Linked DNA regions of Homo sapiens: regions 2 and 3 are each linked to region 1. The links come from fine-mapping of genetic effects on gene expression. A gene starts in region 1. Each other region holds a variant in brackets. All regions are shown on one strand. Distances are between the middles of the regions.

Evidence for each region.
Region 2: its variant is fine-mapped to the expression of PIGT in whole blood (TOPMed, PIP above 0.99).
Region 3: its variant is fine-mapped to the expression of PIGT in whole blood (TOPMed, PIP above 0.99).

The regions. Positions count from the first base shown.
Region 1 is chr20:45,412,086-45,422,236 of GRCh38, forward strand. PIGT (phosphatidylinositol glycan anchor biosynthesis class T) reads left to right here and starts at 4,056. Exons shown (of 12, transcript NM_015937.6): 1 at 4,056-4,258; 2 at 4,432-4,609; 3 at 6,767-6,894; 4 at 7,210-7,310; 5 at 7,419-7,505; 6 at 8,051-8,138; 7 at 8,247-8,344; 8 at 8,443-8,608; 9 at 9,298-9,498. The coding sequence starts at 4,072. It overlaps LOC107985405 (a long non-coding RNA gene), which reads right to left and starts at 6,298. Exons shown (of 2, transcript XR_001754640.2): 1 at 6,129-6,298; 2 at 1-4,732. RefSeq lists an enhancer at 7,525-7,584.
Region 2 is chr20:45,309,184-45,319,656 of GRCh38, forward strand. RBPJL (recombination signal binding protein for immunoglobulin kappa J region like) reads left to right here. Exons shown (of 12, transcript NM_014276.4): 3 at 384-509; 4 at 2,406-2,476; 5 at 2,656-2,771; 6 at 3,038-3,212; 7 at 4,285-4,422; 8 at 4,852-4,961; 9 at 5,230-5,382; 10 at 7,004-7,159; 11 at 7,294-7,397; 12 at 7,503-8,641. The coding sequence ends at 7,776. Among named protein-coding and RNA genes, the nearest start is that of MATN4, 6.1 kb to the left of the region's middle. RefSeq lists a silencer at 2,440-2,489. The variant C/A (reference allele first, on the strand shown) is at 5,191.
Region 3 is chr20:45,350,929-45,361,401 of GRCh38, forward strand. No RefSeq gene overlaps it. Among named protein-coding and RNA genes, the nearest start is that of SYS1, 7.0 kb to the right of the region's middle. The variant G/A (reference allele first, on the strand shown) is at 3,942.

The DNA of each region.
Region 1 (10,151 bases):
AGGAGAGAATGCCCAGGGAGAGAATGCTGAATGAAAGAAGAGGTTATAGGACCCAGTCTTAAGGAACATCAACTCATTTCTCACATTCAAAAAAAAAAAAAAAAAATCAGTCCACCTCCCTTCATACATTGAACATCACCCATGGGATCAGTGACCTTCAGCCAAAATCCTAAAGCTTTTTGTGCCACCCAAGGTTGAGTGACAAGGCTGCAGTCTTCCTATTGTCCCATCCTGCTCTCACCCCTGCAGGAGGCCAGTGTAAGTATCTGTTCCTAAGTGTTTTTCCTAACACTAGTGAGAAACCTGTGGGAACTCCAGGGAAGTAGGAGTGTCCACCAGCCATTCCCTGTCTCTAGGAAGCTTGTGGAGTGAATACCTTCTGTGCAAAAGCCTCTAGGTCCAAGTTGAGATCATCCACTGAGCTGGGCCAGGGCCCAGTCCTCTATTAACTTTTGGGGTTTTTCTGGGTTGCTTATGACCTTGCTGCACATAGAAGACATAATCTCTGTCCTCTTGTGGCTTCTCTCCTTCCTTCCTTTAGAGTAGCAAGGTTCTATCTACCTCCTGTCTGACTGTGGCTGAGCCATCTCTTGGGCTGCGGCCCATGATCCCAATAGCTTTGCTGTGCAGGGCTTCTCAGCTCCCAGGATCACCCCCCTTCCTTCCATGGTGAACGATGAGAAGCTAGACTGGCTTGGTTGCCGTCAACATGTCAATAAATCTCTTAGTAGCCCAGGCACATGATGCGAAGATTGTGGGGAGCCTGCCTTGAGAGAGGGATTTACAGCCCTCTAGAGAAGTAGAATTGTTTCTGAGCCTATGGGGAGCCTTCAGTTTGGCTGCTATGAGCCCCAGCCCTGCCTGGAAAAGTCTAGTGTCAGCTGAGACCCCAGGACTACTTCCTAGTTGGGACAATAACCTTTTCTCCTGCCGAACCACAGGGGCTTGGCTGGCCTTCAGAACCATCATCTCCAGCTGACTGTTTTTTGTTTCTTTGTTTTTTTAAAAAAACTTATGGGGGTTTCAAACGTACAACAAATATAGAAAGAAAAATATCCCAGGTTCTCATCATACAGCTTAAAAAATCATCAAAATAGTACCAAGATTGTATCATCTACCCACCACATATTTTTAGTGGAAAGACATTTATGATAACTCTTGAAAGAAAGAGTAGACTATAAAACACCATATTCAATATGGTCACTTTTTAAAAAAATGATAATCTTCAGATTCACCATTTGATTATAGTGTTGCATTAAAGTTAAACCGTGGTTTATGGCAGCCCAGAGCCTAGCTGTCTGGTTTTTGAGGCCACACAGTGCCTTTGGAGGTGGGAGGAAGATCTGGAGCCAACTCTAAGTCAAGGAGCCCAGCTTTCAGTCTCCAAGCTACAGCGTGGCTTCTGATATTTGCACGGACTTGTCATAGGGTGGACATCCTGACACACTTCGGAAAGGAGGCACCACAGCTCAGAAAAAGTTTCCTTAGAAGGCTTACACTGTAGCAACCCCAGGAGTGCACAGAACTTGACACTGAACAGCATGGCAGAGTAGGGAAAATACAGAACTGTGCTATGATGTCATCTTGTTTGTTCATTCATTCACACATTACTGAGCACCTACTATGTGACAGTCACCTTGCTTAGGCAACAGAAATACTAAGGTGACCATGAGCTCTTCCAGGAGCAGACACAGACACAGGTAATGGAAACAATGTGATGAGAGATGTAGCAGAAGTACATGAAGCCTGTAGACCACTAGAGGAGGAGAAGGTAAGTCTTCACTAGAGGTGGCTGGGTCCTGAATGATGGAGATGGGCAATTTCAAAAGGAAAACAGAGAAGTACAAAATAGTCATAATGATGGCAGCTACCTTTAAAAAAGTATTATTTTGAGGTTTGATAGTGTAGACTATAGTCCTAGCTCCATCACTCATTGTAATCTTTATTATCTTAGTTTATGTACTTCTTAATAATAACACTCAAGCAACCCTATCACTTAGGCACTATTATCTACATTTACATATTAGTGCCTAGGTGACAGGGTTGAGTGTTACTATTAAGCACTTGCTACATTCCATATCCTACATGTACATAATTTCTCATCTTAACAACAACCTTGAAAGTAGGTTTCTTCATTATACAAATGAAGAAAAGTGACACTTGGGTTGATCATGCTCATATGGATTAAAGGCTGGCATAGGGATTTGGACTCCTGTCTTTCTGACATCTAAGCCCATGGCCTTCCTAATATTTCGTGTCTAATGGGGCAGGAACACTGAATGCAGGCAGAATGAAGGCATAATGAGATAAAGACATCTTTCTGACATTTCCTTTCTGGAAATGTCTGGTTGGTTGGCGCATATCTTGGCAGACCTGCCTGACACCAAATTGGCTCTTTCTAGAAGTGTGGTCATGAGTGTCACCAAGAGACTGTTCATGAAATCCTTCATGAATGTGTTTCCCATAGGGCAGGTGGAAAAACTAAAGCATGACTTTAACTTTGGAACTCCGAAAAAGTCAATAAAAAGACAAGCCAGTAAACAAAGGGGTGAGGGTGCAGAAGACTTTAACAGACCTTTCACAAAAAAATAAAAATTAAATTAAAAAATAAATGGCAAATAAGCACATGAACAGATGCTTAACATTTTTAGTTACCAGGGAAATGCAAATTAAAACCACAATGAGCAAACACTACATACATACCCAAGTGGTCAAAACTAAAAAGTACAAAAAATTAGAAACTTCAAATGCTGACCAGGATGTGGTACAATGGAGACTCATAGTTTATGGAAACATAAAATGATACATTTTGGAGAAAGGTCTGACAGTTTCTTATAAAATTAAACATACACCTGCTCTCTGACCCAGCAATTCCACTCTTAAATACCTGGCCAAAGGATATGAGAAATATACGTCTACAAAGGAGCTTGCACAGACAGCAGCCTTGTTAATAATAACCAAAAACTTTAAAAGTGCCCATCAAGAGTTGAATGGATAAATTAATAATACTACGCAGTAATAAAAAGAATTGTGGATACATGCAAGAACATGGATGATTCTCAAAAACATTCTTCCCATGAGAAAAAAAAAAGCCTTACACAGTATACATACTATATGATTTCATTTATATTTAGTTCTGGAACAGATTAATCTATTGTGGGAAAAAATCAGGGTACTAACTGCCTCTGGAAGGTGATAGAGGAGCAGGGATTGACTAGGAAAGGGTATTGCTAATTTTCTGGGGTTTTAGGAATGTTCTGTATCATGATAGGAGTTCGGGTTACATAGGTGTGTGCATTTGTCAAAACTCAGTGAATGTGTACTTTGGATTTGTGCATTTCACTGTATGTGAATTTTACATCAAAATGCAATCGAATACTGAACTCTAGTTAATTATATGCATGCTTAACTACTTAAAGGAAAGTGTACTAATGTCTGCAATTTACTTTGAAGTGCACCAAAACACAAGATGGAATGATGGATGTATAGACAAATATGTGGTAAAGTACAAGTATAGTATAATGTAAATAGTAGAATCTAGGTGGTGGAAAATAGGTTTATTGTAACAGGTGCTCATTCTTTCAATTTTGTTTGAACATTTTCGTAATAAAAGAACCACTTATTTGGGGGTTTTGCAGCAAATGGAGACACTAGAAGCTAAGAGGGGCAGGAGGTTCCTCTTACTTTGGGAAATGCAAATTAAAACCACAATGGTTTTCCCAAAAGTAATTGATCTTTTTCAGTCAATGTTTCCTCAACTATCAAATGGGTAAAATGGCAGTGAAGGAGCTTCATATTATTAAGCATTTCCTGGTGGGTGGAATACGCCATGAACTAGGTGCGGCCTCAAGCTGGTTACTCGCCCTGCCTACTCCCTCTCGTGTCCTCCCAGTACCCCCTTAGACCCACCAGCTCTGAGGGAATCTTCGCGACCTGCGCAGGCGGTCGCTCTGATAACCGCATCCCGGTTTCCGGGACGACAGCGGAAGTCACTTCTCACACGCCTTTCTTATTGGATACCGGCTTTTCATGGGGCCGAGCGCCGCTGGGTAGGCGGAAGTAGCCGCAGGCATGGCGGCGGCTATGCCGCTTGCTCTGCTCGTCCTGTTGCTCCTGGGGCCCGGCGGCTGGTGCCTTGCAGAACCCCCACGCGACAGCCTGCGGGAGGAACTTGTCATCACCCCGCTGCCTTCCGGGGACGTAGCCGCCACATTCCAGTTCCGCACGCGCTGGGATTCGGAGCTTCAGCGGGAAGGAGGTGAGGGCGCGAGATCTGACCAGGGAAAGATTTCCGTAGTGCCTGCTGGCTGGCCGGCCGTGGGATGAAGGCAAACTTTGGGGGCGGGGCCTAATTCCTGGGTAGAGTTCGGGATCCTGGGTGTGGACCCCGACGAGGTGGGGATCGTCACTCACCTGCTCCCGTTTCCCCAGTGTCCCATTACAGGCTCTTTCCCAAAGCCCTGGGGCAGCTGATCTCCAAGTATTCTCTACGGGAGCTGCACCTGTCATTCACACAAGGCTTTTGGAGGACCCGATACTGGGGGCCACCCTTCCTGCAGGCCCCATCAGGTGCAGAGCTGTGGGTCTGGTTCCAAGACACTGTCACTGAGTGAGTGCACACCTTGGGCCCTGTTGCAGGCCATGGAGGGAATGTGGCTGGGAGAGTGTTGTCATCCTGCCACTGCTCTTGGGGACAGCACTTCCAGTAGGCAGCGATTCCATGGGGGTAGAGCTGGCATTGGAAGTAAGAAATGTTACCACAGATGAATAAACTTCCCAATCCTAAAACTTTCAGACCTGAGGTAGCACATGCATATCCCTGGAGAGGCAAATAGCAAACAATTAATGCTTATTTGGAGGTAAGGCAGTAGAAAACTGGCAACTGGATAACCTTTTAAAAGGCATTCATTAATATTTTTTAAATGATAATAAATACCACGAAAGCCAACCATAACATATCTGTGGGTTACAACTGGCCAACAGGATGCTACATCACAGTGTTAGAGGAACTGCTTTTGTTTGGGAGGGGGCAGGTCTAGTTACTGTGCCTACTACAAACCGCTATTTCCCAGTGGCTGCTGTGGCTATCCTGTTTAGAATAGAACCTTTCTGTGCAGTGGTTGCAAACAGGTCTACATGGGCCACACAGGTAAGGAATGAATAAAGGTATTTTTAAAATTGACAAACACAGGAATGAGAAATATATCTCATTTTCCTCTTAATCCCACTATAAGAAATCAATAGTGCAAGTATGATATAACAAGTTTTAGGGCAATAAAAAGGAGCAGCAGGAATTGTGGCAGGCTAGAGAGTTTGTGTGACATTCTAACGAGGACAGCTCTGCCACTCAGCTTCTATGGATTGTTGCCATGTGGGAATAGAGGCCTAATGTGGTCAGAGTCAAATGTTTCTAAAAATTTTTTGTAGAAACAAGGTCTCACTATATTGCCCAGGCTGGTCTCGAACTCCTGGGTTCAAGCGATCCTCCTGCCTCAGCCTCCCAAAGTGTTGGGATTACAGGCAAGAGCCACCACACCTGGCCTCATTTTTCAAGAGATACCAGAAATCTGGAATTTAATGTGAAAATTGGCAAATTCAAATATCAGCAAGTAATTTAAAAATTTTTTGAGTGCTGTGCGGGTCAATGTTGTGCATACCAAATGAAGCATGTTTATGGTTTGAGTAGAGCTTTCCGGCTTCAAGTTTGCCATTTTTATTTGAGGCTTAAGGATTGGAGCAGTTGAAAAGCTCTGAACATAGAATTATCAAAAGCTCCTGGACAACACTAAGGAATAAGGAATAAGCAGTAACTCCCCAGCTTGCCAAGACTTTCTCTCTTGCCTCAACTCTGGCTCCCCTACCCTTTCCTGTCTACTCTGCTGTCACTGTCTTCCCTCAGCCCGTAATTGCCTGAAATGTGGAGCAAATGCTTAGAATTCTTTCTAGTGCTTATTAAGTTTTATGCTTTCTCTATTACTGAGAGCAAATCTCTTTTGATATTTCTCCAAGAAAAGAACATTAATTTAATTTGATGTTTTTATGAAATCCTAGAACAGTTGTTTTTCCCATGTTCAGTGAGCTTTTTTGGATATAAGACTTCTCACCATGATAGTAGAATCAGGACTTACCTTTATTCCCAGAGTATACACAGGGTAGTATGCATTGTTTTGCCCAGCCCAGCACATTCAAGGAAGATCAGTGAGCTCATTTCAGCTCTGATACATGAGGCGCTTTCCATGGTGTCAGGGGAAGTACATAGATGACCCAGACTGGTCCTTGTCCTCAAGTTGCTTACAGCCTAGTTAGGGAGAAAAGGTGGTCAGGACACGATGCTGCTGCCACCTAGCCATCTCCCAGGAGGGACCTAGTAAGATGCTTGGATGGTCAGAACCGTGACTGCACAGAGGAGACTGTGCTTAAGGAGGGCAGGAAAGGCTTCGTGGAGGGGAGGTAAGCACTGGAGCCGGATCATGAAGGTAGGCAGAAAGAAGTTAGCAAAGGCTTGCAAGGAAGGAAGAATCACCTGAGCAGAGACCCATGGGGATGCAGAGATGTCCAGAGGAGAGTGAGGAAGAAGGGGCTGAGTAGGATGAGACCCAGCAAGTGGGCTGGCTGGGGGCAGCAATGTTCCAGCTCCATCAACTGGCCCGTCTAATAGTTAAGAATACAGCCTCCTCCTATCATAGGTTTAGCAGCCAGCTGTGGACTTTGAAAGAGGGAGCAGAGGTAGCCCCAGGACAGTGAGTGGATTTGTGTCTCTATCCAGTGTGGATAAATCTTGGAAGGAGCTCAGTAATGTCCTCTCAGGGATCTTCTGCGCCTCTCTCAACTTCATCGACTCCACCAACACAGTCACTCCCACTGCCTCCTTCAAACCCCTGGGTCTGGCCAATGGTGAGATAACCCCTACAGCCCTTTCCTTCTTCCTCTTACCTCCTGCCCAAACCTTTGCCTCCTTTTCCCTCAGTTTCCTGCTTCCTCAGCCTGGGCTAGATCCTAAGTCCCCTGTGTGTGCAGGCCCCCAATACTGTGCCATCTCTGCATGCCTTTTCCCAAGGAGAGAAGGGAGTCCTACTCCCAGTTGGGACTGTCCAGACTGTGGTGCTAGAGGTGGTGTGGGGAGCAGGAGGGTCATTCCCATCTCTGGAATGTGGATCCCGAGGGGTCAGAGCCCAAGGCCCACCCCAGACAGACCTCTGTCTCCCTCAGACACTGACCACTACTTTCTGCGCTATGCTGTGCTGCCGCGGGAGGTGGTCTGCACCGAAAACCTCACCCCCTGGAAGAAGCTCTTGCCCTGTAGTTCCAAGGTGAGGCCGCAGAGCCTGGCAGCCGGGGGCGGGGGGTGTATAGAGAACCTGCGCCCCATGCCAAGTGCTCCATACAGGGCTTCTCTTATCTCTTTCCATCTCCTCCAGGCAGGCCTCTCTGTGCTGCTGAAGGCAGATCGCTTGTTCCACACCAGCTACCACTCCCAGGCAGTGCATATCCGCCCTGTTTGCAGAGTAAGTCATGGGGAGTAGAGGAAGCTGCCATCCAGGGGCTCAGAGAAGGTACATGTAAAGCATGTGGTCAGTGTCTGGCTCAGGCTGAGTGAGTACTGAGTGGTAGATGTGATGACGGTTATTCAGGGCATTGGCCAAGCACCAAGAAAACAGTGGTTGCCTAGCAAGCACTGAATAAATATTTGTCATGGAAAATAGTGGTTCAGAACAATAGCTATGCGGGTGCAATTGCTAGCTCAGTCACTTGCCAGCTGGCGTAACCTTGGGTGAATCATTTCATTCCCCTGAGCTTGGTTTCCCACCCTGCCACATGACATTGATAGTAGAATCCACTCCTAGGGTTGTTGTGATAGTTTATCAAACTGATGCACATACAGCTGTCAGCACGGGGTCTGGCACGAGGTCAAGTGCTCAGGAGTGGGTGGTAGCAAATCGATGGATGTGAAGATACATAGATGAGGGATTGAGTCTGAGTAGGAGTCTTTTTGGGGGCTGTGTGGTGAGAGTGATACCCCCTCACTGCTGCCATCTGGCCCTTGTGATAGAATGCACGCTGTACTAGCATCTCCTGGGAGCTGAGGCAGACCCTGTCAGTTGTATTTGATGCCTTCATCACGGGGCAGGGAAAGAAAGGTAAGTTACCTTGGCAACTCATCTGTACCCACCCATGCCAGCCCTGCCTTATCTATGTGGACTAGGCCTAGGCCTGGCCCCTGCTCAGCCCTGCGCTCTGTTTCTCAGACTGGTCCCTCTTCCGGATGTTCTCCCGAACCCTCACGGAGCCCTGCCCCCTGGCTTCAGAGAGCCGAGTCTATGTGGACATCACCACCTACAACCAGGTAACAAGGTCTCCAGCCACACACACAAACACACCGCTGGTCCCCAGGACCAGCCTACCCTCTCTGCTTGCTTCTTAGCCCTGCCTTTGTGTCCCCAGGACAACGAGACATTAGAGGTGCACCCACCCCCGACCACTACATATCAGGACGTCATCCTAGGCACTCGGAAGACCTATGCCATCTATGACTTGCTTGACACCGCCATGATCAACAACTCTCGAAACCTCAACATCCAGCTCAAGTGGAAGAGACCCCCAGAGAATGGTGAGTGGGTGGTTGGTTGGACTGCTGGGTTGCAACGGCTACAGAGAAAAGACTCACAATCCCACGTCTTTGCCGTTAGATGATTGGGTTGTATTTAGACCAGATTTCCAGAGTCATATGCTGCTGACTGTAGCTATTCCAAGCTCTACGATTTTGGGTAGGTTCCTAAACTCCCCAAGCTTCAGCATCCACATCTGAAAAATAGAGTATACTTAGCAAATTGGATGAGATGATGTGAAAAATGGAGTTAGTTCATGCATTTGCTTAATCAACCAAATACTTTTGAATTCATACTAAGTGCCAGGCATAGAGTGTTGAATAAGACAGAGGACACTGCACTCAAGAAATATAAGTCTACTAGCTAGGGCAGGTGTCAGTTAATTAATTACAGTTGTGTTCAGTTCCCTTACCAAGGGAAAGAGCAGAATATCCTGAGAGGACCTGGATTGGGTTCGAAGGGGGCACGGTGTTCGTCACGTAAGCACTTCAATACTAGCAACCTATTGTCATCATCGCTTGTTGGCTGGGGAAGACAGGGATGATTCCAGAACCCAGATTGCCCAGTTTCAGTGGCAGGGCTGTTCCCCATCTACTCACTGGCTTGGGACTCTGAACATGGCCTGGGCAGGTGGGGTGGGGAGTGATTCTTACCTTTGGCAGCTGTTAACTGTTGATATTTCTTTACACAGAGGCCCCCCCAGTGCCCTTCCTGCATGCCCAGCGGTACGTGAGTGGCTATGGGCTGCAGAAGGGGGAGCTGAGCACACTGCTGTACAACACCCACCCATACCGGGCCTTCCCGGTGCTGCTGCTGGACACCGTACCCTGGTATCTGCGGCTGTATGTGCACACCCTCACCATCACCTCCAAGGGCAAGGAGAACAAACCAAGTGAGGACCTGAGTCCTGAACCAGGCCCCCAGCCCGCCCTCTCATGTCCTCTCCAGGTCCCCCAAACTCTCATTTCCCAGGGTAGTTCCTGAAGTACCTCTGAAAAGCTACACAGGCATAAAGAGTAAGGAATAGTTTCTCAAAACTGGAACGGGAGCCTCACTGTGCCAGGTTCAGAAGTAATTTATAAAACAGCAATAATTAAAACACATAATACTGGTGATTCTTAATAGGACTGTACAAGGACAGTAGCTTCCTTTTTCACTTACTTTTGCCTCCTTTCTGGAGCATTGGGTTTTGTGATGATTCATAGACTCTTTAAGGTAGGGAAAGGGTTTGGCAACGTTAGGCTTTTGAAGCTAGGAAGATAGCAGAGCTGGAGTAGATGGTGTTTTGCTTCCTTGGGAGGGGTAAAGAGGTACAGTTAATTAAATTTTTTTATTTCTATTTTTATTAAAATTTATTTTTATTTTCTATTATTTTTCTAAGGAGAAGATAATATTAGTGCTTCCTATTAGGTGCCAGGCATAGCACTAAAGCACTTGCCTTTCTTTGGTGTAGGGGGAGACTAGTAGTAAAGTAAAAGACCTCTGAGGAAGAGGTTGTACCATATCCCAAACGGCCAAACTTAAAAACCTTTCAGTACTTTAGTT
Region 2 (10,473 bases), 100 kb before region 1:
CAGCCCTAAAATACTCTTCTCCATCCCAAGGCCAGTATAAGTGCAGCCTTTGTGTCACAGCCACGTGTCCCTATGGCCCTGGGCTCCAATGGGCATGATGCCAGACCCACAGAGTGGAACCTGGGTGGTCCCATGGGTTCCATGCAGGCTTCGTTGAGCACCTTGCAGCCTAAATATTTAGCCTACAATTTGCAGCCAAGTCTCCTCCTTACCTAATGCTTCCTCTTCCTGACCCCACAGGGGCAGGATATAGAGCAGCCCCACCCTCCCACTCACTCTAACCCCCTGCTCACTTCATTTTACTCAACCTGAGTGCTTGGACCCTGTGCCACCTTGACCCTTCTCCCTCCTGTGGCTGGTCGACCTGCCTGCCCTACTCCCAGGTCATCCCCAGAGCACACCACCATTCTGAGGGGAGGCGTGCGCAGGTGCCTGCAGCAACAGTGTGAACAGACTGTGCGGATCCTGCATGCCAAGGTGGCCCAGAAATCATACGGAAATGAGAAGCGGTAGGTGCCTCCGCAGCCCCTCCCAGGTCTCTGCAACTGTCAGCCCTATGCACCTCCTCCATCCACCCATTGGGCCTCTTTTAGACGCAGAGCAGGCCTCAGGGCTGAGATCTCAGCTATTGGTCGACCAGGGCCTTGACCCTCAGCCACCATTAGCCCCCACTTTGGTCTATAGTTCTACAGCAGGAGATTCCCTGTGAATCTCCTGTCTCCATTCATTCACTCATTCTCCCATTGATTCACTTATTCATTCATTCAACAACTACTTACTGAGTGTTTGTCATGTATGCACCAGGCTCTGTGGGTACTGCTGGGCACTGGGCATACAGCTGAACAAGACAGAAACAGCCCCTGCTCTGTAGCCCACACTCTCACTCAAGTGTGGAAGAGACAGACAGTAAACTCCCCACAAGTCAGGAAACAAGATACTTGCAGATTATGATGAGCACTAGAAGGAAAACTGAACGAGGCCATTTGACGGAAACTGAAGGCAGGGGGGACATTAGCTAGAAAGGTCAAGGAGGTTGAGAGACCTTTTGGGAGGTAACATTGGAACTGAAACTTGAATGCTGAAATGGAGCCAGACAGGAGAATATCTGGGGAAAGCGTGCTACAATTAGAAGGAACAGAAGGGCCGGGCGCGATGGCTCACACCTGTAATCCCAGCACTTTGGGAGGCCGAGGCGGGCGGATCACCTGAGGTCAGGAGTTCGAGACCAGCCTGGCCAATACAGTGAAACCCCCTCTCTACCAAAAAATACAAAATTAGCTGGGCATGGTGGCGGGCACCTGTAATCCCAGCTGCTCAGGAGGCTGAGGCAGGATAATTGGTTGAACCCGGGAGGCGGAGGTTGCAGTGAGCCGAGATCATGCCACTGCACTCCAGCCTGGCGACAGAGCAAGACTCAGTCTCAAAAAAAAAAAGGGCAACAGAAAATGGGAAGACCTTGAGGCTGTACCAATTAGGCCTGTTTGAGGTACAAAAGAAATGACAGTGGCTGAAATCAGAGGGAGGAGTTGTAGGAAACAAGTCAGAGAGGTAAGCAGGGGTCAGATCTCAGGAGGACTTTGAATTTTAAACCAGTGGAGGATTTTAAGGAGTTAACATGATTTGACTCATGTTTTTAACAAAACACTCTGGCCAGCCTGGTGGCTCATCCCTGTAATCCCAGCACTTCGGCAGACCCAGGTGGGCAGATTGCTTGAGCCCAGAAGTTCCAGACCTGCATGGGCAACATGACAAAACCATGTCTGTACAAAAAACACAAAAATTAGATGGGTGTGGTGGCTTGTGTCTGTAGTCTCACCTACTCAGGAGGCCGAGGTGGGAGGATCAGTTGGGGAGGCAGAAGTTGCAGTGAGCCCAGACAGCCGAGATCAAGTTACTGCATTCCAGCCTGGGCAACAGAGCAAGACCCTGCCTCAAAAAAAAAAAAAAAGAAAAAGAAAAAGAAAGAAACAGGAAGGAAGGAATGAAAGAAAAAAAGAAAGAAAGAGAGAGGAAGGAAGGAAGGAAGGAGCACTCTGGCTGCTGTGCGAAATGGGAAGGAGATAGAAACAGAACTTTCTGGAAATAGACCAGTTTGAAGGCTGATGCTGTGGTCCAGGCAAAAAGTAATGGCGGCTGGGATGAAGGGCGAGGTGGTAAAAAGCCAGTGGATTCTGGATATATTATATTTTGAAGGTGGAGTGGACAGGACCTTCTGATGAGTTGAATGAGGGGTGTAAAAACAATAAGGTTTGGCTATGAATGGGGTTTACAGTCGTGAAAAAGCGTTGCGGGGAGCGGGAGGAGGAAACGAAGGTTCTGCTGGGTTTATGCTACTACCTTGCCGTGCTTACAGGAGAGCCAAGTGGAGATGGATGCACGACTCCAACACTCACTTATCTCCGCAGGTTCTTCTGCCCCCCGCCCTGTGTCTACCTCTCGGGGCCTGGCTGGAGGGTGAAGCCAGGGCAGGATCAAGGTGAGGGCGGAATCAAGGGCTGCCGGCCGCCTGCTCTGTAGGGAGGACCACGAGATTGGGCCCGAGACGGGGCGGTTCGCAGGCGCAGTCTCCCCGCGCCCTCTGGCGGCGAGCGCTAAGCTTGCCTGGCACCTGCGTCCTCCCGAGTCCTTGCAGAGCCAGTTCGCGTCCCTTTCCAGCTCACCAGGCGGGGGAAACGGGGCCCACGGTCTGCGGTTACATGGGACTGGACAGCGCGTCCGGCAGCGCCACTGAGACGCAGAAGCTGAATTTCGAGCAGCAGCCGGACTCCAGGGTGAGAGCGCACGGGAAGGGGTCCGATTCCTGCTCCCATCCCTGCCTCTCCTGGGAAAGGAGGGCTCCTTTACTCCCCTCCGAAAGCCAAGAGATAGGTGGGGAGACCGGGAGGCCGGGGTCCTGCCTTAAGGCCGAGCCTGAGAGCCTGGATGGTGGAGCTTCTGGTCACCTCCGACGGGGCGGACGTCCGATATCTGGGAGAGGTTGGTTCATCCGACGGGGGAGGGCTGGGATGAGATGGCCCTGTACCTGTGAGCCCCCTAGGAATTCGGCTGCGCCAAGACCCTGTACATCTCAGATGCAGACAAGAGGAAGCACTTTCGGCTGGTGCTGCGGCTGGTGCTGCGCGGGGGCCGGGAGCTGGGTACCTTCCACAGCCGCCTTATCAAGGTCATCTCGAAGCCCTCGCAGAAGAAGCAGTCGCTGAAAAACACCGATCGTGAGCAGGGCGGGGCCTGACCCCCGGCCCGGGCGGGGAGGTGCAACCAAGCCCAGAACGGCTAAACTGGGGCGCGGAGGTGGGGGTAGGCTGGGCTTAGGGGTCAGAGTGGAAAAGGTGGAGTCGGAGCCGAGAGGGGAAGGAGTCTGGATGAGTGGGTGCGGCCCAGGCCTGGGGATGAGAAGAGTTGGAGGATGAAAAGCAGAGAGGAAAGGGACAGATACCAAATTCCAGGTTGGGAGTTGGGGTCCCAGAGCAGACAAAAGTTGAACTAGGCAGGAGTTGAACTAGGGACAGACTAAAAGTGACATAGGTGGGGCACGGTGGCTCATGCCTGTAATCCCAACAATTTGGGAGGCCAAGGTGGGCGGATCAGTTGATCCCAGAAGTTCAAGACTAGCTAGGGCAACATGGCGAAATCTTGTCTGTACCAAAAAAAAAAAAAAAAAAAGAAAAAGAAAAATTAGCCTGGCATGGTGGCCTGCACTTGTTGTCCCAGCTACGTGGGAGGCTGAGATCAGAAGATCACTTGAACCCAAGAGGTCGAGGCTGCAGTGAGCTGTGATAGCACCACGGCAGTCCAGCCTGGGTGACAGGGTGAGATGCTATCTCAAAAAAAAAAAAAAAAAGTTTTACTTTTGTTTGTTGAACTGAAAGATGTCCAGACAGCAAAGGAACAGGCAAAGGTTCCAAAGCAGGACTGCAGCAGGTCCTGGAAAAACAGCTGTGAACTGGGAATGCCCAGTGTATCTAGGCCTGTGGGCACATTAGCCAGGCCGGCACAGGGACAGAAGATTGGAAACTGTCTGGAAAGTCCAAGGAACCAAGCCAGGACAGGGCACTGATAGCACCAACTAACCTTAACCCTCACCCTGACCCCCTCCCTCACCCTAACCCTCACCCTAATCCTAATCCTTACCCTCACCCTCACTCTAACCCTCACCCTAATCCTAACCCTCACCCTCACCCTAACCCTCACCCTAACCCTAACCCCAATCCTAACCCTAACCCTATCCCCTCACCCTAACCCTGACCCTCACCCTCACCCTAACCCTGACCCTCACCCTCACAGTGTGCATATCCTCCGGCTCAAAGGTCTCCCTCTTCAACCGCCTGCGCTCTCAGACGGTCTCCACACGCTACCTCTCTGTGGAGGATGGGGCCTTTGTGGCCAGTGCACGACAGTGGGCTGCCTTCACGCTCCACCTGGGTAATGACATCTGCAGGCCCTGGAGCTGGGCACTTCACATGCATTAGCTTATTTAACCTCCACCACAACTCCTTAAGGAAGGTAAACTCTGCCCCATGTGATTAAGGCTCAGAAACACAAAAAGACTTGACTACAGTCCCAGTGAGCTGGTGACTGTTCCAAGCTATTCTGACTCCCTTATCCATGCCCTTTCCCCATATATCAACTAAGCTGCCTGCCCCCAACCCCTGCCCCCAGGGCAGACATTTGTGAGGATGGCCTCAAATGGCCTCTCCAGAATTAGAACCTTCAGTTGGCTCCCCTGAGTACCAAGCTTTCCCGCAGGGCCCATGTGTGATGTGAGGAAGAGCCAGAGGCAACAAGGCAGGGTTTAAGGCAGAAGCTTGGGGGCCGCTGAAAACCTTGTCCCTTGCTTTTTTTGTCCCCCAGCTGATGGGCACTCTGCCCAAGGAGACTTCCCACCGCGAGAGGGCTACGTTCGCTATGGCTCCCTGGTGCAGCTCGTCTGCACGGTCACCGGCATCACACTACCTCCCATGGTATAGGAAGGGAGGGCATGCCTGGAGGGGTCCCCTCAGATCCATGCAGAGAATGTGGCACACACGGGCAGGGCTGGAGAGTGAGGCCCCAAGGCATGGAGACACCTGTTCTCACCCAGTGTCGCGTAGGACCAGACAGAAGTCAAAGGGCAGGGGGAATCTGCTAGTGCCTGTGTGGCTATTGGAGTAGCAGACAGCCGGCTAGGAGGGCAGCCTCTGGACGCCCGGG[C/A]TCCTTGCCACCACTGTTCTTACCATCCTTCCATTGCAGATCATCCGTAAAGTAGCAAAACAGTGTGCGCTCCTTGATGTGGATGAGCCCATCTCCCAGCTGCACAAGTGTGCATTCCAGTTTCCAGGCAGTCCCCCAGGAGGGGGTGGCACCTACTTATGCCTTGCCACAGAGAAGGTGGTGCAATTTCAGGTAAGAAGCAGAGAATACCAGCACCAAGTGTCCTGGAAAGGGAGAATGCAGAGAACCACAGAATGTAAGATCATCACCCTCACCATGGTTGCTACTTCCTGAGCAGCCTCCCATGGAACATTAAAATCATAGACTCCCAGGACAGAATCATAGGATGTAGAAAAATAGTAATAAGTAATAGTATGAAGCAATATTCCTTCCCAAAGAATTTTAGAGTCATAAAATATTGGGATATAGCCAGGTGCGGTGGCTCATGCCTGTAATCCCAGCACTTTGCGAGGCTGAGGTGGGCAGAACACCTGAGGTCAGGAGTTCGAGACTAGACTGGCCAACATGGTGAAATCCCATCTCTACTAAAAATACAAAAATTAGCTGGGCATGGCAGTGGGCGCCTGTAATCTCAGCTACTCAGGAGGCTGAGGCAGGAGAATTGCTTGAACCTGAGAGGTGGAGGTTGCAGTGAGCCAGGATCACACCATTGCACTCCAGCCTGGGTGACAAGAGCAAGACTCCATCTCAAAAAAAGTAAGTAAATAAATTGGGATATAAAATTGTAGGATGTAAATAAAAATCATGATAGGTAATAGAGAGCAGAGAATTAATGAGCAAAGACTATTCGAAGCACAGATAAAGACACAGAATGTGGAAAATTATAGAATGTGGAAAATAATAATTATCGTTAAGCAGTAGTACTCCCAAAAGAATATTATCATAGAATGTTACGAGATAGAATTATAATATGTGGAAAATAGCAAGTATTATTCCTTCCCCAAGAATATTCCTTCCCAAAGAATATTAAAATTGTAGATTATTAGAGCATAGAATTGCACAATGTTAAAAAAAAAAAAATTCTGGAATCCCAAGAAAAAAGACCCTTAGAAATCAGCTATCCCAGGCCGGGCCAATGGCTCATGCCTGTAGTCACAATACTTTGGGAGGCTGAGGCAGGAGGATCACGAGGCCAGGAGTTTGAGACCAGCCTGGCCAACATGGTGAAACCCTGTCTCTACTAAAAATACAAAAAAATTATTTGGGCGTGGTGGCTGGCACCTGTAATCCCAGCTACCCGGGCGCCTGAGGCAGGAGAATCATTTGAACCCGGGAGGCGGAGGTTGCAATGAGCCAAGATCAGGCCATTGCACTCCAGCCTGGGCGACAGAGCGAGATTCAGTCTCAAAAAAAAAAAAAGGAAGAAAGGAAGGAAGGAAGGAAGAAGAGAGAAAGAGAGAGAGAGAAAGAAAAAGAAAGAAAGAAAGAAAAGAAAGAGAAAGAAAAGAAAAAGAGAAAGGGAAAGAAAGAAAAGGAAGGAAGGAAAGAAAGAAAAAGAAAGAAAGGAAAAAAGAGAGAGAAAGGGAAAGAAAAAGAAAAGGAAGGAAGGAAGGAAAATAAAGAAAAAAGAAAGAAGAAAGAAGAAAGAAGAAATCAGCTAGCTCAACAAGCTTTCTTAACGCTAAGTGAGAGAACTTAAGGGCACTGTCCAAGCTGAGGGGACAAGTGAACCCCAGAGCCTAGGATTAGTATCCAGTTCGGTCTAACGCAGAAGCCCACGCGCCATGCTGGCTCCCTACACTGGTGGCCACCATGAGAAGCTTCGGCCTCGTCCCCTTGGGTCTCCTCCCAGGCCTCTCCCTGCCCCAAGGAGGCGAACAGGGCTCTGCTTAACGACAGCTCTTGCTGGACCATCATCGGCACCGAGTCGGTGGAATTTTCCTTCAGCACCAGCCTGGCGTGTACCCTGGAGCCGGTCACTCCGGTGCCTCTCATCAGCACCCTAGAGGTGAAGCCGGGCGCTAGGGGCGTTGGGCAGGGGGACCCTGCCTGCACTGGGCAGTGGTGGTGCTAGTGAGTGGGGGGCAGCGGGTTCCCGCCCTACTTGGTTCTCTCACCTCACCTGGTCCCACCCTCCCCCAGCTGAGCGGCGGGGGCGACGTGGCCACGCTGGAGCTCCACGGAGAGAACTTCCACGCGGGGCTCAAGGTGTGGTTTGGGGACGTGGAGGCAGAAACCATGTACAGGTACGGGGTGGTGAGGCAGCCTCTCTTGGGCCCCGGGGAGCAGGGGAAGGGGGTGCACGCGTCGTCGGAGTCGCCGCAGCCCTCACCCTGGTGCTCCACCCCCAGGAGCCCGCGGTCCCTGGTGTGCGTGGTGCCGGACGTGGCGGCCTTCTGCAGCGACTGGCGCTGGCTGCGCGCTCCCATCACAATCCCCATGAGCCTGGTGCGCGCCGACGGGCTCTTCTACCCTAGTGCCTTCTCCTTCACCTACACCCCGGAATACAGCGTGCGGCCGGGTCACCCCGGCGTCCCCGAGCCCGCCACCGACGCCGACGCGCTCCTGGAGAGCATCCATCAGGAGTTCACGCGCACCAACTTCCACCTCTTCATCCAGACTTAGGCGCGCCCGGTAGCCCCGGCTGCCCACCCTGGAGGGCTGCGCCCGCGCCAGGCGCGGGGACGTGTTTCTGGGTTCTAGGCCCTGCTTCCTTGCCCCTTTGCTGCAGAAGGGCAGCTGAAGGCTCACCCTAGAAACCGGGCCTGGTGGGTCTTACCCGGCTCACTCCCTCCCTTGTCCTTACACATACAGGAAGACAAGACCTGAGTGGTGCTGTCTTTGTGTCCGTCGTGTATGGCTCTCCCTGTCTTCATTTCTTCTCACTCTGTCTCTAAACCTCTCTCTCTCTCCCTTCCCCCTCAGTACTTAGTCTACAGACCTATGTGCGTGTCCCTATCCTTCTGTCCTTTTCTCTCTTCAGCTCTCCCTGCCTCTCACACACAATTTTACATGCCCCGAGGAGCCAAGTTTGGGACATTTACCCTCCAGGCATCTGTGTCCCCTCTTGAAGAGAAAACACACAGCTTCACACATCCAGGCATAGGGGGCAAGCTCTTGGGGCATCAGGACCCTGGAGCACCAGGTCCTTCCTGGAATATTAGATCCACCTGGAGCACCGGGTCTCTCTAAGTCTCACCTGGGGAATTCGGTCCCACCTGGGGCACCAGTTCCCACCTAGAGCACTGTGTCCTGCCCTAGAGCACAAAGACCTGCTCCTCCCGAGACTCTCTCTGACTGCAGCCAGGCATAGTACCTTTGCCTGTGTTTGCTCCCTGGTCCACAGATTTGGTGGCTGGGCAGGTGCCTGGACAGTGATGAGGTCTTGCCGCCTTAACTGTCCCCCCCAGTCACTTCTCCCACAGGCCCAGCAGGACGCAGTCCTGAGGATCAGGGATTCTACAGCTGCATTAAAATCAATCCTATCCAAGGCAGAGTTTGGTCTGTATGAGCCACCTCCCCAAGTGTGCCTCCCCCAACCCTCGCACCAACACACAAAAGAGGGGACCTGCACAGAAAGAAAAGAACCACAAGTCTGATGGAGCAGAGAGCCTACCTTTTGGACGTTTTCTAGAGGAGGAACAGGGTGCAGAGGCAGCTGGCATCCTGAGTCCCTGTCCCTGCCCTGGGGTTGTTACCCTACTAGCTATCTCTCCATCCCAAGCAAGGGTGCACCCCAGGCCCAGAGGTGACCACGGGACCCTTTCAAAACAAAGCTTTCCCAGGATAGCCCTGGGCAGAACTCCTGGGATTGACTGGGCAGTAATGTAGTTGAGAGGGGGGCCTCTCTGCATGGGGCTGATGGACAGAATCACAATCTATTCCCCACCAGCCTACCCACCCTAGGTACCACTCTACCCAGTCTGTGCTTTATAGGGAAGGAAAAAAAAACCAGGCAGAACACTGGCTTGGGCTATTGGAATCAAGGACACAGATAAGTATCATGGGTGCCAGCTACCTGCACCAGCCTCTGGTGGTGCCTGATGGGAAAACTGGTCTGAAATGTGGGTTCTAGGTTCTAACCCTCTGGAGAAGAGCTTGCCCTCCTAAGGAAGAGCTCATTTCTTGTAAAACTCCTCCCCCAGGGTATGGAAAGTCCCATGAGAAAAAAGAAACGAACAATACGCAGAGGAGAGGAAATGGGGTATGTTCTTTAGCCTTCCCAAAGTCTTGACTAAGTTCTGCCATCTGCCATCAGCAGGCTGCAACCCACTGTGAGGGGTGAGGAAGAAGCCTGTGGCCCCTGAAGGTGAATCTTGGCTGAGGAAGGCAGCAAATGAGTTGAATGGGAAATGTCCCTGAAATGAGCGCCTGACTCACCGTCCATGGTGGTGTTGAAGCAGGCAGCCAGGAGGGAGGAGGCTGAGAAGAGTGTCATAGCGCACCACATGGGGAATTGGGGCTCAAGCGCTCATCGTCCAGCCCTGCCCCCAAAGTCTTCCTCCACCACTCCTCAAGGCAGGAGTCCCAGAAGCCAATAATCTAGGTTGGACCAAAAGCCCAGACCCAGCCATACAGCTCTGTCTTAGTCCTCACCCATCTCAGGGGATCCTATAACCTTTGGTGTCCCCAAGGTATCCATCTGGAAGTCTGTGACCAAAGCTCCAGCCCTGGCCTAGCTTCTGAGTTCCAGCTGCTGAAACTGTCCTTGGAGGTCTTCCTTGCACTGAGTCTGAAGCCATCTAACATCAAACTCCTTTCCCTCTCCACCTGCCTTGCAGCACCACCTCTAGCTCCTTCCCCCACACCACCCAGTCACCCAGGCCTAAGGATCCCACCCCCACTTCCACACTACCATATGCCTCCTGTTTTCCTCTCCCTCCACTACTGCCCTGCCAGGTCCTGTGTCGCCTCTTCCAAAATTTCCCAAACTACTCTAGGTAGAACTAGCTATATAATTTGTGGGCCCCAGTGCAAAATGGCCCGTTGTTCAAAAATTATTCAAGAATTTCAATTCGACTGAACACGGGATTAAAAAAAAAAAAAGAACTTCAAGACAGCCACAGGAAATGATGAAACCAAGTGCAGGGGCCTTCCAAGCACAGGCTGCACAACCACGAAGCCAGCCCTGGCCCCAGGCTTTTTTCTTGTATTCCCACAGACCCTCAATGGGACCATATCGACTGCCTGCTTTGGATCAAAGGTTTTACCTACATGCCCATTGTCTCCTCTAGGCTGCCATCTTCATGGGGAAAGGAGCTCTTATCTCTGCATGTCCTAAAGGGTGCATCACAATGCCTCGCATGTTGAGTTGGTGCTCAA
Region 3 (10,473 bases), 61 kb before region 1:
TTTCCTTTATGGTTTTGTTTTTGTTTTTGTTTTTTTGAGACGGAGTCTCAATTTGTCACCCAGGCTGGAGTGCGGTGACGCAATCTCGGCTCACTGCAACCTCCGCCTCCCAAGTTCAAGCGATTCTCCTCAGCCTCCAGAGTAGCTGGGACTACAGGCACACACCACCATGCCCGGCTAATTTTTGTATTTTCAGTAGAGACAGGGTTTCACCATGTTGGCCAGGATGGTCTCGATATCCTGACCTCGTGATCTACCCGCCTCAGCCTCTCAAAGTGCTGGGATTACAGGTGTGAGCAACTGTACCCGGCCTCCTTTTTTTTTAATATAATTGTATGTTCATATAAATTAATTTTTAGTAATAGTTATGTTTAACAACTGGCTAATGACATAAAAAAAAAAGCAACAAAAAAAAAACAGGATCTCTCTCTGTAGCCCAGGCTGGAGTGCAGTGGCAAAATTATGGCTGATTGCAGCCTCAACCTCCCAGGCTCACGAGATCCTCCCACCTCAGCCTCCTGAGTAGTTGGGACTAGACATACGCCACCACGCACAGCTAATTATTATTATTATTGTTATTGTTATTATTATTATTATTATTATTATTTTGGTAGAGACACAGTCTTACTATGTTGCCCAGGCTGGGTTTGAAGGCCTGGGCTCAAGCAGTCCTCTCAACTTAGCTTCCCAAAGTGCTGGGATTACATGGCACCCAGCCACAAAATTTCTAAAAATTGACTTTCATGAACCACTACAAGATGGCTTTACCACACCATGGTTTGACAGCTATAAAAAATGAAAAATAGGAATAAAATTATTGCTAAAACCTGTTTCATTCTAGCAATATTCGTTGAGGTGTTTGTTTGTTTGTTTGTTTTTGACAAAGTCTCACTCCATCACCCAGGCTGGAGTGCAGTGGCACAACCTCTGCTCACTGCAACCTTAGCCTCCTGAGTTCAAGTGATTCTTGTGCCTCAGCCTCCCAAGTAGCTGGAATTACAGGTGCACATCACCATGCCTAGCTAATTTTAGTATTTTTAGTAGAGATGGGGTTTCGCCACATTGGCCAGGCTTGTCTCAAACTCCTGACTTCAAGTGACCCGCGTGCCTCGGCCTTCCAAAGTGCTGGTATTACAGGCATGAGCGACTATACCCAATCTCATGGAGGTTTTAGTGAGCTAATTGGAGAGAAAAATTGCCACAGCCACCTAATTAAGACAGGTATTTCTAAAACAACTTTACTTTTTCTACTTAATAATTATTTATCAAAGTTTGTAGGACTGGTTTAGAGAGTGATGTGATTTGGATGTTTGTCCCCTCCAAATCTCATGTTGAAATGTGATTCCTAATGTTGGAGGTGGGGCCTGGAGGTGACTGGATCCTGGGGCAGATCCCTCATGAATAGTTTAGCATTATCCACTTGGTGATAAATGAATTCTCACTCTCAGTTCACGCTGGATCTGGTTGTTTAAGAGTCTGGGAACTCCACCTTCCCTGTCTCTTGGTCCTGATGATGCCATGTGAGATGTCTGCTACCCCATTACCTTCCGCCATGATTGGAAGTTTCCTGAGCCCCTCGCCAGAAGCAAATGCTGGAGCCATGCTTGTATAGCCTGCAGAACTGTAAGCCAATTAAACCTCTTTTCTTTATAAATTACCCAATCTCATATATTTATAGTAACGCAAACAGCCTAACACAGCAAGCATATATTTATGTCAATTGTATACTTTAAATATGTATAGCTTATTTTATGCCAGTTGTACCTTAATGAAGCTGTTTAAATTATTGCAGGACTTTTTAAAAGAGTCATCAGTAAGCCTCTGACGCATTAAAAAAAAACACATTATGATAAAATTTTGTGGTGGAACATGGAGTAGAAATTTGACTTCAAATAGAAAAAGAAATGATGCAAAATGTCTGACTCTTAGAAAAGAGCTTGTTCATGTATTTTTTAAATGGATGATTGTAGGTATCGAATTGCTAGGGCATTTAATTTAACTGGATACATTTAAAAGAGTGATGTAATTGTTTTACTTTTACGTGTATAAATTTACAATATGCCAGAAATTACAACCTTTGCAACTATTTAAACTTTTGATGAAAAATGTTAAGCTATCAACTAAAAATTATGTCAAGGAGTACCTAGTCTTAAAATAATCATTTACAGAGTACACTAGCAAAAAAACAAAAACAAAAACTGAAAACAGCTCGTTTAGAGAGTTAATGGAAGTTCTTCTATAAAACTATCTTAACCTCCTGGAATTAAGGAAATAATTTCCCCTTCCCCAAGTTCTGAGAATCTCTAAAGGGATGCAACATGTTTGAATATAATTATTTGTGGATGTATGGGTCTTTAACCTGGGCTCCATGACTGGGGGCAGAGGACACATGCATGGTCAGTACTCCTCTAGGTTATGTGTCTCTGCATACATTATTTTGGGGCAAGAAACTTCAGATTCTTTCTTTATATCCACAAAAAGAGGATGTTTGGGGGATCCTCCTTTTGGGTGATCCTGACCCCCAAAGAGTTAAAAATAATTTGTCCAAAACCTGAGATTCTTTGAGAAGTTTTATTGGGTTCTTCTTTGGCCTCCAAAAAACAAAATGCAGTAGTCAAAGGTTTGTAATACTGAATAGGAGTTCCTAATTTCCTGCATGGGGCTGAGGTACAAAAACCCAAACAACCAAACAAAACCCACAGTGTTTACAGCCAGAAGTTCTTCATTAAAATCCTGTTTCCAGGACTTGCCAACTGGAGGAAAGTTTGTGAGTCCCTTTGCTCCTCCCTACAATGGAGATAATTCCCTCTTGAACTAATTAGGAGAATGGAATAAGGTGAAGTGGTGAACACATAACATATACTCACCTATGTTGGGTCCAGCACTCTTTCTGTATATTCTAACCTGAGATTGAGTGAGTCTGAGAGATGGCATTGGTCAAACACTTTACATCCTCCCCCTAGCTTCCTTTCAAGCAAAAGGAAATGATCTAGGACATCAACAGGCAGCCCCCTCCCATGGAGCTAAAAAATGAGCTCAGACCCAGCCTATAGCAGAGGTGGTGTCCCTCCCCCTTTTCTCAGACTTCCTAGGCCGGAGTTAACCAAGGCTAGGTGCACACCTGGTACATCCAGAGACACCTTAAATGCTACCTTCTCCTGGAATCCTCCATCCTCTTCTTTTAATTCTCATTTCTTCCTGCCTTGAGGTTTCTAGGACTCTATCTGTCCCACTCTTTGGGCAGGCATCCCTTTCTCACTCATGTTAGTTTTAGGTGAAGAGCACAGTCTTCAAAGTTAAAGAGACCTAGATTGCAATCTTGGTGGTATGGAGCAAGACACTTTTTCTCTCTGTGCCTCAGTTTTCTCATGTGTCCCCCCATGTAATTTGAGGGTCATTATAGTTCTTAACATCATAAAAATGTTAAGACTACAGTGCTTAGCACAATACGGAGCATCAAAGTGTTATCTATTTTTATAATCAAGGGGGCCTCCCCATAAGAGTCTTGACTTACTCCCCTCCCCAGCAGCTCCTCACACATGGTTAATAACAGGTAACACATTACTATTTTCAGAACAGAAAAAGGATTGGGCCATAGGGCTCTCGCCCAGGATGGTGCCAACCCTTTCTGGTCTTCCTCAGTTTATGTAAATCTCTCTCCAGCTACAGATAATGACAGCTTAGAGTTTCCAGGGGCTGTGGAATGTCCAGCCACTGCCTTGCATAACCACAGAAACTAAGAACACTAGGCCCAGAAGGGTCCTCTCAAATCATTCAGTCCAACAGTACCCGCATTATAAGATAGGCAAACCGAGGCCCACACGGTGAATCAGCATCCACCACAGGCATTTTGAAGAATTCTAAAAATAACACCTCCAATTACTCTTTCCACTTGCTTTGCTTTATTTTTTTGTCGTAACATTTCCCTTACCTGCCATCAC[G/A]CACTTATTCTTTTACTTGTTTATTTTCTGTTTTCTCTGCCACATGTAAGTTTCATGAGGGCAAGAACATTGTTGTGTTCACAACTGCATCCCTTGCACCTTGTCCAAGGTCTGGCAGAGGTTTACATTCAGTAAATACTTGTCGCATGGATAACTGGATGAATGCCATTTGGACATTTTCCCTTAGAGGCTCAGATGTAGCAATTCACTCACTTGGTCATTTATCCAAAAAACATCTGATGAATATCTTGTATGTGAGAAGCTTTTTGATAAATCCTGGTGAACAAGACCTGTCCGTGTTCTTAAGCAGCTCCCTGATTAGCGGACAATAGCTGCCAGCTATACAGTAGACTGAGGATCTACTATATGCCAAGCTGTGGGCTGGCAACTTTATATGCATCTTCTCTGTCTTAGCTCAGTTCTTGCAATTGCGAGGAAACATGCCTCACTCAGGACTCCTTAAGAAAAGGCTTAGGAGTTATTAGGAGGACCGGGAGGGCTAAAGGTTAAAACTGAAAGGGAAACATCAAGGACTGAGATGATGCCACAGACTGGCTGACTCATCTCTTGCTCTTTAAGCCTGCTTATTCTTTCTTTAAGAGTGTCTCTTCTTTTTCCTGGATGTGTGCCTCTCTCTCTTTTACTGACTTACTGGTTCTCTCTTCTAGTCTAAATTTTGGGAGGGGACCACAAGACTCATTGGCTTGGCCAATGGCCTTCCTTATTCCTTAAGTAAGCGCCTGCAGCCCAGACCACTTTTTGGATTACTATTTGGCCTAGAGGTTGAACATTTAGCTTCTCACATACCCTGAGCAGAGTGTATGTTTAATCAGAAGGGAGTGTTGAGCATCATCTTCACTTGGATGCTGTGAAGTAAGTAGTTTTATCTCTATTTTACAGATGAGAAAACAGGCGGAGCAAGGAGAAATGACAACAAAACCGTAACTGTAACAAAGCTGCCCTAACCCACCTGCAAATCTACAATTGAGAAATCCATTTCTGTTGCCCCTGAGATTTGTGGGGTGTTTGTTAAGTAGCAAAAGCTGACTGATACAAGATTCAAACTCAAGTTTCTTTGATTCTGTCTGCATCACCATGCTGTCTCACTGAACTTACAGCCCTGATTCCTGTTCCTGATTCCCAAGTGTCCTGTCCTAAAAGGAGCAGAGATAAATATTGTATTCATCCATTTTCTGATGTTATAACAGAATCCCACACTGTTGGTGTTCTGAGTATACTGACATTCCTTGACGCTAGATTTTATATTGTTGATTGACTTGTTTATCATCTCTCTCCTCTATGAGATTAGAGTATTTTCTCTTTATTCACTTTATTCATTTATATCCATACCACCTGGATCAGTTTCTGGCACATAATAAATGCTCAATGAATATTTATCAAGTAGATGATTGAATGAATAAATAATGATAAAAAGGAAGTGTAAAAAAACAACTTTTCATCTTAAAACAAGGCCCTGAGTCCTTTAAGGTCAGAATAAAGAATAATTTCTAGGTAGGGACAGAAAGTTTAGTACATGATGGATGGGGTCAAGAATCAAGGTAAGAAAACTTGAAGGTGTGAGGCTGGGCACAGTGTCTCATGCCTGTAACCCCAGCCCTCTGGGAGGCCATGGCATGAGGATCACGTGAGCCCAGAAGTTTGAGACCAGCCTGGGCAACATAGTGAGATTCCTTTTCTACATAAAATAAAATAAAAATAGCCAGGCCTGATGGTATGCACCTGTAGTCCCAGCTACTCAGGAGGTTGAGGTGGGAAGATTGCTTCAGCCCCGGAGTGTGAGCCTGCAGTGAGATATGATAGCGCCACTGCACTCCAGCCTGGGTGACAGAGCAAGGACCTGTCTCTAAAATAACAACAAAGGCCGGGCACAGTGGCTTACACCTGTAATCCCAACACTTTAGGAGGCTGAGGTGGGCAGATCACCTGAGGTCAGGAGTTCGAAACCAGCCTGACCAACATGGTGAAACCCCGTCTCTACTAAAAATACAAAATTAGCCGGGCATGGTGGCACATGCCTGTAAATCCTAGCTAGTCAGGAGGCTGAGGTAGGAGAATCACTTGAACCCAGGAGGCGGAGGTTGCAGTGAGCCAAGATCACACCGTTACACTCTAGACTGAGCAACAAGAGTGAAACTCCGTCTTAAAAATAAAATAAAATAAAACAACAGTACAACAATGAAAATAATACAAATAAAAATTAAAATATAGTTTCACAACTATTTACATTGTATTAGATGTTTAGAGATGACTTAAAGAATGTGGGAAGATTGCATAGACTATATGCAAATACTATACCATTTTATATAAAGGATTTGAGCTTCTCTGGGTTTTCATATCTGCCAGGAGTCCTGGAACCAACCACCCATGGATGCTGAGGGATGGCTGTACTCAGAGGTCCTTCCACCCACTGTCATGCCTGGCATCATCCACCCTGCATAGATAGAGGGTTTGCAGAAAACCCCTGATCATTAGACACAGAACACAGAAAACCAGTTTCCTGACTCCCTCTGGTGTGAAGGAAAGAACAGGGAGGTTGGGGTGGAAAGTTAGAGTGGAAAGACAGACACCCCAGATGTTTCTTAACTTTTGATTATTCCAGCTGACAAGACATGCCACACCTCAATGTGTACTGAGTGTGAGTCACTTCCTTCTCTAAGCCTCAATTTCCTTACCTGTAACATGTGGACAATGTTTATACCTACATCCCTGGGGCTGTTGCAACAATAAGATGAGGTCAGGTAGATGAAAGCTGTATGTCACTGTAATGTCCAGTGCCTTTTTTTTTTTTTGAGACAGAGTCTCACTCTGTCACCCAGGCTGGAGTGCAGTGGTACAATCTCAGCTCACTGCAACCTCTGCCTCGCAGGTTCAAGCAATTCTCCTGCCTCAGCCTCCCAAGTAGCTGGGATTACAGGCATGCACCACCACTCCTGGCTAATTTTTGTATTTTTTGTACAGACAGGGTTTCTCCATGTTGGCCAGGCTGGCCGCCAACTCCTGATTGCAGGTGGATCCACCCACCTCAGCCTCCCAAAGTGTTGGAATTACAGGCATGAACCACCTTGCCTGGCCTTCAGTGCGCTTTTTGTTACACACTGAGAAGGAATAGTGTGTGGAGTCAAACTGGCCTGGGTTGGAGTTCAGCTCTACCACTCACTGGCAGCATGGCTCTGGGTAAATGTCCCTTCTCTGAGCCTCAGGATCTGCATGTGTTCAGTGGGGCTATTAATAGTTCTCAACTCACAGGCTTGTTTTAGAAATTAAATAAGGATTAAATTATATAAGTGCCTGTCATACAGTAGATGCTCAGCAAATATTCCTCCCCAAACACAGACACAAACAGCACTTAAAGCAACCTGGGTAACAAAGGGGTTTTCGGTCTGGAGGAGAAACCAGGCAGCTAATGAGCTCTCTCTCCAGTTTTCCTTCTAAGAGAGGAACTCACTGGCCAGAGCCCAGGATGGTCACCGATGTAGAGGACAGGCAGCCAACTCCAAGCCTCCCACGTGGGGTTTCCAAAAACCTGTGAGCACAGAGTTGCATAACGTGTCCCTGAGACACGTGTTTCTACTGAAGTGTCTTCATCAAATATTCCCTGAAAGGAAACATGTGAGCAGGGCAGTAGGGCAGCCTAGCGGGGGAGGAAGGGAGAGGGGGAGGAAGGGAGAGAGGGAGGGATCTAGAGAACACGACAGTAGGGGTGAGAGGAGGAAGAGAAGGTATCACATTTAATGTGCTCTTACTATGGGCCAGCCACCGGGCTTGACTTGTCTGATACATTGTTAGATCCTTGCCATAAATCTGAGATCAGGCATTTCCGTTCCCACATTCCAGAGGAAGAAATAATAACAATCATATTAACATTGCTGAGGTTAACATAGTGCCCACTGCATATCAGGCAGTGGACTAAGCACACATTTGACCCTCAGGACAGCCCATAACATGGGTACTATTCTGAACTCCACTTTATAGAAGAGGAAACCAACTGAGACTCAGAGACATGAAGTAACTTTCCCAAGGTCACCCAGCAGGACAGCAAGACAGCCAGAGAGCCAGGATTCGAATCTAAGCAGGGCTCTCAAGCCTATGGGCCTATGGGAGAACATTTCCCAAGGGATTTATGGGGGTGGATCCAGAAGGTGACCTTAGCGATTGTCCTTACATGCATGCAGTGGGGCCCCAGTGTGAAAGTGACGAAAGAGACCAAGTGACCAGAGGCACTCCCCTCCCCTCCACCCAAAGGACAGTTTGTCCCAGCTTGTGGCTTTTCGTCACTCTGCCTCTGACCTGAAGTTTAACATTTCATTCATAAGTTTGGAACCACAGACTTGGCAGCGTAGGAAGAACCCTCGTAGACCAGCTAGCTATTCAAATCCAATCCCCTCATATTACAGATGGAAGAAAACCCTGAAGCCGGAATGTGACTCGCCAAGGTCACAGAGCAGTTTTCTGTTGGATGAAGGAGCCGGTTTAGGGTCAACTACAGATCATCTTGTGCTGTAGTTATCAAATGTGGGTGCACCTCTGAATCACTTGGGGAGCTCTCTAAATACACAGATTTCCACACTCTGCTTTGGGAGACTTGAACTGGACTTAGGTTTGCAAACAAGGACTGGAAATTTGAATATCCAGTATGTTCCTCAGGTGATTCAGATGGCACAGGGCCATGACAGCATCTGCAAGTCGGAGTCCAATGTCCCTCTTTCATTTGATAGTTTGGGATACTGGGACCCACCAGGGGACTCGCCCAAGGTCACATAGCAAGCCAGTGGGGCTCTAGTTCAGACTCTGTGGTCTGAAGCAGACTGCTTGTGGTCAAATTTGAAAATGGGCCAATGAAGCTAAACAAAGGGGTTGCCATGATTTTCCCCAGCTCTTGGTTTCCTTCTTGGATCCAAATTAAGACGGAGGATGATGTACATTTCCGAAGCTTGGCAAGGCGGGAATCCAAGAACTGAACTCCCAAAGGGGAAAGGAAAGGGCAGGAGGTTAGCTTGCACGCCCAGTGGGGTTTTCCCAGAGGTGAGCTCCGGACTCCAGGGATGACATCAGACATTCCAGCCAGCCCTAATATCAAAAGCTACCTGTGTTTTCTAGTTCAGCAGAATGGGTAGGCAGGGCCTTTCCTATTGGGAGGAGATGGGGTGGAGTGGGCCCAGCTGTGACGTGAAGGGAGCAGAGCCCAGGAAGAGCCACGCATTCCAGCATCTGCAAGGAAGACAGCTGCCCTGGGTATTGTCAACCTCTGCAGCCCTTTTCTAAGCCTTTCCTCCCATTTCTCCCTAATCCCTCACCCCAGGGCTAACTGAGCAGAGAGATTCACTGCCCCTTTTCCACTTCCTGCTACTCCACCACCTATTTTACTATCTCCCTTCCTTTATTTCCCTCTCCCTCCCTCCCTTCCTCCCTTCTTTCCTGTTCTTTTATTCTAAAATGGCATCTTGGCTGGACACAGCGGCTTATGCCTGTAATCCTAACACTTTGGGAGGCCAAGGTGGGAGGATTGCTTGAGCCCAGGGTTCAGGACCAGCCTGGACAACATAGGGATACCCTGTCTCTACAAAAAAATAAAATTAAATGAAAAATCAAAAAAGCCAAGTGCGGGCCAGGCATGGTGACTCATGCCTATAATCCCAGCACTTTGGGAGGCTGAGGCGGGCAGATCACTTGAGGTCAGGAGTCCAGACCAGCCTGGCCACAATGGTGAAATCCCATCTCTACTAAAAATACAAAAATTAGCTGGGCATGGTGGCACACACCTGTAATCCCAGCTACTCAGGAGGCTGAGGCATGAGAATCGCTCGAACCCGGGAGGCGGAGGTTGCAGTGAGCCAAGATCATGCCACTGCACCCCAGCCTGAGCGACAGAGCAAGACTCCGTTTCAAAAAAAGCCAGGTGTGGTGGCACATGCCTGTGGTCTCAGCTATTCGGGAGGCCGAGGCTTGGGCCTGGGAGTTTGAGGGTGCAGTGAGCCATGATTGCGCCACTGCAAACCAGCATGGGTGACAGATTGAGACCCTGTTTCAAAGAACCAAACTAAACCAAACCAAAACTAAACTAAAAGTCATCTTGATGTTTGGAGTCAGTTGTCCTGAATTTGAATCTCAGCTCTGCTCCCTGTGAGCTCTCTGACCTAGAGAGTCACACCACCTCCCCCCAAGCCTAGTTTCCTCCCCTATAAAAAGGGGACAATAGCTATATTTTCAGATTGTGAGAATTAAACAAGATCATGTAGGCACTTAAGAAACAGATGTTTTCTCAGAAACACTAGATCATGTGCATAATCAGTGAACTAGAGGAATTTGAATACATATTTGTTGGACTGAATTGAGGTGCCTAAAAGAATGGTTGAGCTGGAAAGCACCTAAGAAATCTTTGGGCCTTAATAACTCCCCAACTGGAGTCCAGGGGAACTGTTCAGGGTATTTCCAAATGATAAGGACAATCGCACACTCTCAATAAAGTCTCAAGTTTCTTTACTTTTGTCTGGAATTGTATCAGCTCAAGGTG